Regions from separate parts of the Homo sapiens genome. Here region 2 is linked to region 1. Evidence: fine-mapped expression QTL. A gene starts in region 1. The other region holds a variant in brackets. All regions are shown on one strand. Distances are between the middles of the regions.

Evidence for each region. PIP is the estimated chance that this variant, and not a neighbour inherited with it, causes the effect.
Region 2: its variant is the best candidate, but not a certain one, in a credible set for the expression of DBN1 in monocytes (Schmiedel 2018, PIP 0.85).

The regions. Positions count from the first base shown.
Region 1 is chr5:177,470,789-177,476,154 of GRCh38, forward strand. DBN1 (drebrin 1) reads right to left here and starts at 2,846. Exons shown (of 15, transcript NM_001363541.2): 1 at 2,648-2,846. The coding sequence starts at 2,733. RefSeq lists enhancers at 1-133, 1,704-2,207, 2,208-2,709 and silencers at 1,858-2,044, 1,964-2,333, 2,364-2,563, 2,644-3,023, 3,034-3,083.
Region 2 is chr5:177,418,796-177,424,161 of GRCh38, forward strand. No RefSeq gene overlaps it. Among named protein-coding and RNA genes, the nearest start is that of GRK6, 5.2 kb to the right of the region's middle. The variant A/C (reference allele first, on the strand shown) is at 2,223.

The sequences.
Region 1 (5,366 bases):
TACAAAGACCAGTGCTTCTCAACCACATCAGAGGCACCCCGAGCCTGGTGGTGCACCAGGTGGAAGCTGGCGAAACCACAGGGAATCAGGATGGGGTAGGCGACCAGGCATCTACACATCTCACCAGCTCCAACTCCTGGAGACAGACACTGCCCCCAGCTGTAAGCCTGGTGAAGGCAGGAACGCTGACTCAGTCAATCAGCACATCCTGCTCTCTGGGTCCTGGGGTCCAGCACACCGCATACCAGAAGTATGTGTGATATTGACACCAACTCAAAAGCCATCTAGCCAGATAAACTGAACTAGCGTGAGGTGGGAGCTGGAATGTGGCAGTTCCAGAGACCCTGGGGTGAGCTGGGATGGGGGGTGAGCTGGGGTGGAGGGTGAGCTGGAGTCGGGGGCTGAGGGCAGGTGGACCCCGCAGGACCATCACTCTCAGGATGGTGGTGCTAGAAAGGCCTTCAGTATCCGAGGTAGTGCTGGGCCCAATCCCTTTTCTTTCCAAGAGGACCAGGAACTTGTGTATGATCACAGTGAGTCATATCACAACCAGGACAACAGTGGCCCTTCCCACCACACAACCTCATTTCCTGGGTCCCCTGCTCCCTGTGCCAGAGTAGTGGTGCACTTCAGAGGCCCTGCCACCTAGGAGTGAACTCCCCCAACCACCCCTCCCCATTGGAGGCAAGGTAAGGGTCGGGGGGCAGACAGCAATTTACCCAAGACACCCCTCCCTCTGGACCTATGTGCAGGGTCTGCCTCTGAGTCTTCAGACCTCACTGCACCCCTGGTTCCATGCTGGGCCCTGGGGTATTCATATTCTCTTGTGTAGAAAGTGATCCTCACACCCCTTTTTCAAAATGTTATCTGGGCCCTTAGTGAACGAATGTGTGCATGTGCGAGGGTACATGTGTGCATCTGTGTGTGTCCCACACACAACCCAGATGGGGGCTGACGCACACCAGTGATGAATAACTCGCTTTGGCCACACGGATGCTGCTGGGGTGGGTGGGGGCAGGCCTGTGTTGAGCAGGATGTGGGGCAACAGGGGTTGTGTGGCCTTGGCAATAGGCCACCAGAGCTCTGCTTTTAGGAGAAAATGGGGTGTTGGTAGACAACACCCCTCCAGGCTGGAGGGCAAAGGAGGTGTTCTGGGGTGAGCTGTGCTTCTCCCCAGGCGGGGCCTTATCCCAAAGCCAGCTCCTTCACCAGGCCAAGCCGGCCACTTGCCCAGAGCTCCTCCCATGATCTCAGCCCCCCTGGGGCAGGGCTGGGACAATGGGTGGGCCGCCTGCCTGCTGAGCCTGTGCCGGCCTCTCCTGTGACTGACCTGCAGGACACGAGAGCTTGTCTCTCGCGTCCATCCCTCCAGGCCTGGCTGCTGGCCAGTGCTGCAGTACCATGCCATGGATGCCCAGCCATCTCATCCTCTCCTCCAGAAGCCCCCAGGTCAGAGTCCCCACCTGGCTGCCCTCCCAGTGTGCGGGTGAGGCCAGCCCAAGCGGGGTCCCTCAGACCTGCCCTCCTCTTTGCCTCAGTTTCCTCAAGAAGAACCTGTTCCCATCTGCCAGCAGGGAGAGGAGGCCTAGGAACCAGATGGGCACCTTCCCTAGAAGAAGAGTATTACGGGGGGGTTAAAGGATTCCAGGATGGGGCTGTGAGGAACCCCTCGGTTTCCTTTTTCCACCACCCTGGGCCGCCAGCCCCAGAGCAGGTGGTCCATCCCCTCCCCCAGCTCAGCGGGAGACAACAGCTGGGGGGCGGGGTGAGGGGCGGCCCAGCTCCTCCCCCATCAGGGACCGAGTGCCCCTTGCTGGGGGCCGGTGGATCTGTTCACCCCTTCAGCCGTCTTTGGGGGCTCCCTCCACACTTGTTCTCCAGAGGGCTTCCTCCCAGGGATCTCAGCTGGCCCCTTAGGCAGCTCGGTGCCCCCCAGCCCAGCTGCCTAGTCCCCGCAGTCCCCTTCAGGTAGGGGAGGAGAGCTCACCCCTGCCTCCTCCGCGACCCGCGGCGGTAAGGGAGTCACTTCGCGGTCGCCATGTGGCAGCAAACATCCTTCCACCTCACTCCAGCCCAGGTTTCGGGGGGAGGGCGGCCCACTCCGAGAGGCCCCCCGGTGGGCGGGGCGCCCGGCCCCCAGCCCGCTCCGCTCCTCCCCCGCCCTCGCTTTCCTTTGTGCTGTGGCCGGGCCGGGCTGAGCCGGGCAGGCTGCGCTGGCTCCGCTAGCTCGGTCCCCGCCCCGTCCCCGCCCGGACCTCGCCCGCTCGAAGGTGGCGAAGGTGCCCTTGGCCGCCCCGTGCACACCTGTCCCCCGGGCCCGGGGGGTAGGGTGGGGGATGGGCTCCCGCAGGGCCACGCGGCCCCGGGCCCCACATCGGGACCCCGCGCCTCCGGGCCGCGTCCGGCCGCCGCTCCCACCGCGCGCCTTGGGCCGCCTCCGGGCGCTCGGGGCCCGGCAGTGCCCCGCCTGGCCCGCCGGCCCCTCCCCCGGCGCGCACAAAGGCAGCCCCTCCCGGCCCTCCCGGCCCGCTGCACCATTTCGGGGTCCCCCTCCCTTCCCGGCGGCGGGGCGGCGGGGCGGGAGAGAAACAAAGGCGCGGCGGCGGCGCGGGGACAAAGGGGCCGGGGGCGGGGGCGGGGGGCTCACCAGTCGGCCGCGCTCTCCTCTCGGATCACCTCCTCGTAAGCCGCCAGCAGCTCCAGGCGGTGGCCGCTGAAGCTGACGCCGGCCATGCTTCGGGCCGGACCGGGCCGAACGGACAGACGCGCGGACGGACGGGCGGACGGAGGAGGAGGGAGGGAAAGAGGGAGTCGCCGCCGCCGCCTCGGAGCCTCTGCAGCGTCGCGAGCCGAGCGAGCCAGCGGCCGGGGGAGGGGAGCCGGCCGGCGGGGGGCGGGGGGCGCTGGCTCCGCCCGGCTCGCTCCCTCCGCTCGCTCGGTCCTAGCGCCGCCCCGGCCCGGCCCAGGGGGAGGCCCGCCCCCCCTTCCCGGCCTGCCCCGGGCGCCCCTCACCCACCGCCCCTGCGCGCCGCTCCAGGGCCAGCCCCACCCACGTCCCGAACCCTCACCTGCCCCGTCCGTAACCTCGGCGCTAGCCCTCCTTCCAGCCCCGAACCCAGTCCCGTCCCCACCTCCCCCCGCCCACCCCCCGTCCCAATCCGGTTCCGCCCCACCCATTGCTTCATTGATCTCCATTCCTGGTGCGTCCCACCTCATGTTAAACCCATTTTCATCCCAACCCAGCTCACACAACACCCCACCCCTGGCCCGTCTCCTTTCCCTGAGAGGTCCTTGCCTAGTCTATCCCATCATATCCACTGTCATCTGCATCCCACCCTCAAATCCACCCCAGTTGCTTTCCCATCCCAGCTTCAGCCCCATGCTTAGCACGTGTCCCCCCCAACATGTGTCACGGCACATCTTCAGTCCAACCCATCCCAGTCTCATCCTGATCCCAGTTCCCAATTCCCAACCACAGCCCCCCATCTCGGCTCCATGACCACTTATTCCAGGCCATTCTCAGCCCCTACCCAGCTCATTATCCCTCCATTCCAGGCCTCTCCTCCCCTCCACGCCTGTGCCCTCTCAGATGGGGCCAGCTAGGAGATCCTTTGCATTCTCTCTCAAGCCTCACGCCTCCCAGAGGAGTCCCAAGTAGAGTTCCGGAAGCAGCATCTAACCCCAGACTCCCACGGCAGGGCTCCTCCAAGGACGCTCAGGGCCAGCCTCTTGGCACCTTTATCTCCTAAAGCTCTAAGCACAGAACGGGAGGGGGCCTCAGAAAAGTACCCCCTGCAAGGGAGTGGACACCATGCCAGGGCCTTCCAGAACTCCGTTCCTTGCTAGGTTGGGACCCTGAAACCGTCCACAGCGCTTAGAAGCCTTTTCCACCACTACAAAGCCTCCAACCTCGACCTCCCTGAGCAAACTTCACCTGGTCCCAACCGCACCGCGGAGGAGGAGGTGGTTCTAGCCAGGCCTCCGAGTTCTGCGTTGGGTAATTGGCTATGCCAAGAGAAGGAGAGCAGGGCTGCCTATGTGGCAGTGTTCCTGGCGCTTTGGAGTTGGGAGAACCCTCTTAAAACTCAAAATACTCACAGGCCCCTGCCTTGGGAAGTCAGTGCCCACTATGTCTAGGGACCACAGGCCATGGCAATTTCTCCATGGCCACCACTAGAGTGAGGCACCCAGGCAGGGACACAGCCAGGCCCTGTGCCCTAGACCAACTGGCCAGTAGGTGTGGTTGGCCTGCCATGGGGATCCCTAAGGGAGTGGGTGACACATGGTGGGGAAGGGAAGTGGGGAGAGCCATGGAGGGACAGAGCTTCAGCCATCCCCCACCCTTAGGCATGAAGAGCCTGATTCTGGTGAGGAGGGAGACCCTGCAGCCGGGGAGGGGCAGCAGATGGCTGGCCATGAGCATCTGTGGCCTCAGCCTCTTCCAGCTTCCTTTGATTTGTCCTAGCTCACAGCTCCTCGCCCCCCCCGCTCCCCTCACCCCCCAGCCTCCTGCACACTCAATTTTGCATCCAAAAAACAGAAGCCCTAAATGCATCTAAGCTCTTCCTTCCTCAAATTCCTGCCTCCCCACCAGCCACCTACAAACTCTCCAGCCACGCCCACTCTCACCTCTTGCCATCAACATTTTTAAATAAACTTTCTATTTTAGAACAGTGTTAGATTTACAGAAAAGTTACAAAGATAGTATAGAGAGTTCCCATACACCCTGCACTCAGTTTTCCCTATTTTCAGGGAAGCAAGGGTGTTCCCTGCTGGCATGCCCTAGAGCCCACTCCCCTGGTCTCCGCACCCGTCACCCTTCCAGGTTATCTTCATCCCCTCATTTCTATAGGATGCAGACAGACATCTGTCCTCTGTCTCCTCCTCCCCGCATTTTCTCTGGCACTGCTCTGGCCAAGGTCACCAGTAACCCCTAACTTGCCAAACTCAGTGGACCCATAGTTCTCAGTTGCCCTGACTGGTGGGAGTGGGTGGCCACTGGTCACTGTCCTCTGAGAACCTGCCTCCTTTCAGCTGCTGTTGCCCCTGAAGCCCACACACTCAGCCTTGGTGGGTGGGAGGCTGGTGGGTTCCTCCTACCAGGACTTCGTGTCTGCCACCCCCAAACCGATCACCCTTCAAGTCACTGACAGGTCGGTCTCTCCCACCCCCAGAGCATGAGCTCCCCCTACACACAGCGGGAGGCTGGGCCAATGACTTCTGGATCCCCAGAGTGGAAAAGATGAGACAAGGGAGGACTGAGATCCAGAAACTGGGCCTTTGCTGTGTGACCTTGGCTGAAACACTTCCCCTCTCTGAGTTTCCTTTTGATAACCTGTTGTGAGAATAAAATGGGACTGGATGGA
Region 2 (5,366 bases), 52 kb before region 1:
ATTACAGGCATGTGCCACCACGCCTGGCTAATTTTGTATTTTTAGTAGAGATGGGGTTTCTCTATATTGGTCAGGCTGGTCTTGAACTCCTGACCTCAGGTGATCCACCCACCTTGGCGTCCCAAAGTGCTGGGATTACAGGTGTGAGCCACCACTCCCGGCCATAAACTCTTTTTAAAAAAGATATTTATGGGTCACAGTTTCTATGGGTCAGGAACCCGGCACTTTTTAACTGAGTGCCACTGGATCAGCATCTCTCACAAGGCTGCATCGGAGGGTCAGCTGAGGCTGCCGGGGGAAGGATCCACTTCCAAGTTCACTTACAAAGCTGTTGGCTAGAGACATCAGTTGCCTGCCACATAGGGTCTCTCCATCTCACAACCTAACAGGTGGTTTCTCTCAGACTGAGCCAGTGAGGGAGCAAGAGGAGTTACGTAAGATGGTAGCCACAATCTTTTAGTAATCTCATGTTGGAAATGACATTCCATCACTTTGGCTGCATTCCTTCCATTGGAAGTGAGTCAAGCTGGGTGCCATGGCTCATGCCTGTAATCCCAAGACTTTAGGAGGCCAGGGAGGGAGGATTGCTTGAGCCAGGAGTTTGAGACCAGCCTGGGCAACAGAGGGAGACCCTATCTCTACAAAAAAATTAATTAGTTGGGTATGGTGGCATGCGCATGTAGTCCCAGCTACTCGGGAGGCTGATGTAGGCTGATCGATTGGGCCCAGGAGGTGGAGGCTGCAGTAAGCTGTGATCGAGCCTGAGTGACAGAGCAAGACCCTGTCTCTTAGGGAAAAAAAACGTGGCCCGGCCCAGTGGCTCACGCCTGAAATCCCAGCACTTTGGGAAGCCGAAGCAGGCAGATCACCCAAGGTCAGGAGTTTGAAACCAGCCTGGCTAACATGGTGAAACCTCATCTATACTAAAAATACAAAAATTAACCAGGCGTAGTGGGCAGCGCCTGTAATCCCAGCTACTCCGGAGGCTGAGGCAGGAGAATTGCTTAAACCCGGGAGGCGGAGTTTGCAGTGAGCCGAGATTGCACCACTGCACTCCAGCCTGGGCGACAGAGCGAGACTCTGAAAAAAAGAAAAGGCCGGGGGCAGGCCAGGCCTGGTGGCTCACGCCTGTAATCCCAGCACTTTGGGAGGCAGAGATGGGCAGATCACTTGAGGTCAGGAGTTCAAAACCAGCCTGGCCAACATGGTGAAACCCCATCTCTACAAAAATTAACTGGGCGTAGTGGCACGCGCCTGTAGTCCCAGCTACTCGGGAGGCTGAGGCAGGAGAATTGCTTGAACCTGGGAGGCAGAGGTTGCAGTGAGTGGAGATCAAGCCACCGTACTCCAGCCTGGCAACAGAGCGAGACTTCCACAGAGCGAGACTCCATCTCAAAAACAAAAAAAAAGAAAAAAAGAAAAAGAAAAAATGCCGGGTGTAGTGGCTCACACCTGTAATCCCAGCACTTTGGGAGACCGAGACGGGCGGATCAGGAGTTTGAGACCAGCCTGGCCACATGGTGAAACCCCGTCTCTACTAAAAATACAAAAAATTAGCCAGGCGTGGTGGTGAGTGCCTTTAATTCCAGCTACCCGGGAGGCTGAGGCAGGAGAATTGCATGAACCCAGGAGGTGGAGGTTGCAGTGAGCTGAGATCATGCCATTGCACCCCAGCCTGGGTAAGGAGAGCAAAACTCCATCTCAAAAAAAAAAAAAGTGAGTCAGGAGGTCCACCTGACACTTAAGGGGATCTTAAGGCTGTGAATACCAGGAAGAAGCAGAGATCCACGGACCAGGAAGAAGCAGAGATCCACGGACCAGGAAGAAGCAGAGATCCACGGACCAGGAAGAAGCAGAGATCCACGGACCAGGAAGAAGCAGAGATCCACGGACCAGGAAGAAGCAGAGATCCGTGGTGGCAGGGGTACCTTAGAGGTTGCCTACCACAGGCAGCCACTGGAGAGTTCTGAGTAAGAGTGACAGGATCCGGCTGATTGTTTTTAAGACAGGCCATCCAGTCACACAATGCAAGATTAAAGGTGCAAAAAGGGAGGTGAAAAACCTCCCTCCCACCCCCATCCCCAGCCATTTAACTACCCCTTCCCAGATGCAAGCAGCATTTCTGCTGCCTCACGTGGCCTTCCCAAGGTGGCAACATATATATAAGCAAAACTGTCTGTGGTGGTTGTTAGTGTTGTTCACCAAACATTTCCAATTCTTTT[A/C]TCCTTCCAGGCCTATAGGAGTGATGCCAGGTACCTGCTTCTGCATTATAAACTACTCCAAACTTAGTGGCCTGTTTTATCATGCTCATGGATTCTGTGGGTCAGGAATTCAGGCAGGACTCAGCAGGGAAGATGCCAGGGACCTCAGCTGGATACTTGCATGGCTGGGGGTGACTCAAATTGCCAGGGGTTAGAATTATCATATGGAGGCTTCTTCACTCACATGTCTGGTGCTGGGGGTGGGATGACTGGATCATCCCAGCGTCCTGGGCTCAGCTGGGATTGTCAACCACAGTAGAGCACACACATGTGGCCTCTCCATTTGGCTAGGGCTTCTCACAGCAGCAGCTGACTGTGAGGAAAGAGCCCAAGAGGACAGTTCTGGGGAGCCGGCATTTTATGACAGCCAGGCCATATGGCCTTTCCTGACCTGGCCTCAGACTTCACTCTGCATCATTTCCACCATATTCTACCGATGACAAGAGAGTCATTAAGGTCAGACCAAATTCAAGGGGAGGGAAATTAAACTCTATCTCTTGCTGTGGGGGTGGCAAGGTTCCATTGCAGAGGTGCCCATGGGATGGGAATGCATTGTTACACTCATCTTTAGAAAATATAATCTGCCATAGTAATGTTGTGTCTCCCCACTCCTTTATTTATTTATTTATTTATTGAGACAGAGTCTCACTCTATCTCCCAGGCTGGAGTGCAGTGGAACGATCTCGGCTCACTGCAGCCTCTGCCTCCTGAGTTCCAGCGATTCTCCCACCCCAGCCTCCCAAGTAGCTGGGACTACAGGTGCACAACACCACGCCTGGCTAATTTTTGTATTTTTAGTAGAGACAGGTTTTCACCATGTTGGCCGGTCTGGTCTCAAACTCCTGACCTCAGGTGATCCACCAGCCTTGGCCTCCCAAAGTGCAGGGATTACAGGCATGAGCCACCATGCCAGCCCTTCTCCCCACCCCTTGAAAGCTACTTGTGGCCATGTGGTTTGCTTTGACCAATGAAATGTGAGCAGAAGTGACTTGTGTCACTTTTGGGTGCGAGCTTTAAGGACTATTGTATGATTTACCAAATTTCCCATTTCCTTTCACCACCTGCCATTGTAGAAGCACAAACTGCAATGAAGCCCCTACTACGCTGGGGCCCTGAGTGACTACTATGTGTAGTGCCACCCCACCACCCAACAAGCTGTGTTAGACATGTGGTGTATGCAGGAAATGAACTTTTGTTGCTTTAGGTCACTTAAACTTGGGATTGTTTGTTACTGCAGCAGAACCTAATCTATCCAGACCCTTCCTTTTTTTTGAGACAGAGTCTCACTCTGTCACCCAGGCTGGAGTGCAACATCTCTGCTTACTGCAACCTCTACCTCCTGGGTTCAACCAATTCTCCTGCCTCAGCCTCCTGAGTAGCTAGGATTACCATTCCCAGCTAATCTTTGTGTTTTTTAGTAGAGATGGGCTTTCCCCATGTTGGCCAGGCTGGTCTTGAACTCTTGACCTCAGGTGATCCGCCCGCCTCGGCCTCCCAAAGTGCTGGGATTACAGGCTGAGCCACTGTGCCCAGCCCAGACACTTCTTATGCAAGCCTTACACACTGTTCTGCACCCTGATTTTTTCCACTTAACAATATATCTTGGAGATTGTTTATATCAGTATACAAGCACTTCCACGCTTTTTTTTTAAATAGCTACATCGTATTCCTGGGTAGGAAAGGACATTTTACTTAATCAGTCTCTATTAAGGACAATTAGTATGATCCATCTTTTTGGACAATGCTGCAATGAATAGCCTTAAACATTTCTTTTTTTTTTTTTTTTTTTGAGACAGAGTCTCACTCTGTCATCCACGCTGGAGTGCAGTGGCACAATCTCCGCTCACTGCAACCTCTGCACCTGGCTAAGTTTTGGACTTTTAGTAGACATGGGGTTTTGCCATGTTGGCCAGGCTGGTCTTGAACTCCTGGTCTCAAGTGATCCTCCCGCCTCTGCCTCCCAAAGTATTGGGATTACAGGTGTGAGCCACCAGGCCCCACCAGCCTTAAGCATTTCTTATTTTGCTTGAGTGCAACGATATTTGTTTCTTTTGAGACAGAGTCTTACTCTGTCCCCCAGGCTAGAGTGCAATGGCACGATCTCAGTTCACTGCAACCTCCGTCTCCCAGGTTCAAGCGATTCTCCTGCCTCAGCCTCTCAAGTAGCTGGGATTACAGGCACCCGCCACCACACCTGGTGAATTTTTTTAAATTTTAGTAGAGATAGGTTTTGCCATGTTGGCCAGGCTGTTCTCAGACTCCTTCCCTCGTGATCCACCCACCTCGGCCTCCCAAGGTGCTAGGATTACAGGCGTGAGCCACAGCACCCGACTAAGTGCAATGATATTTGTAAGATAGATTCCTAGATGTGCACATCTCAGATGGTTGGTGGCAGATTTTCCCTCTTATTTATTTATTTATTTTTGAGATGGAGTCTCGCTCTGTTGCCCAAGCTGGAATGCACTGGCATGATCTTGGCTCACTGCAACCTCCACCTCCAGGGCTTAAGCGATTCTCATGCCTCAGCCTCCTGAGTAGCTGGGACTACAGGCCCGCACCACCATGCCCGGCTAATTTTTTATATTTTAGTAGAGATGGGGTTTCACCATGTTGGCCAGGGTGGTCTCGAACTCCTGAGCTCAGGTGATCAGCCTGCCTTGGCCTCCCAAAGTTCTGGGATTACAGGCATGAGCCACCATGCTTAGCCAATTTTCCCTTTTAAAAATATCACTTTGGCTGTAGGTGGAAAATGGCTTAAAGAGCTGGAACGAAATTTCCTGAGTGACATCTCCTCTTCACCTCTTATCTATTGCCATGTCCTGTTCATGCCAGCTACATGCCAGGTCTCCATCTGTCCACCTGTCTGCATGTCCTGGCCACTGCCCCAGCATAGGGCACCATCATTCCTCTCTCTAAAAGTTCCTTCTAAAAGGTCTCTCACCTGTCTTAGGATACTTGGCTTGCAGACAAGGAAGCCAATTCTGAGTAACTAAGCAGATGAGGAATGGATGGGGCAGCCTGGGGGGCTTGCTGAATCCCCCTCCCCCAGGAAGGGCCTAGCTTGACTGCCTTCCTTGCCTCCCCCAACCTCCACGGCCTCCACAG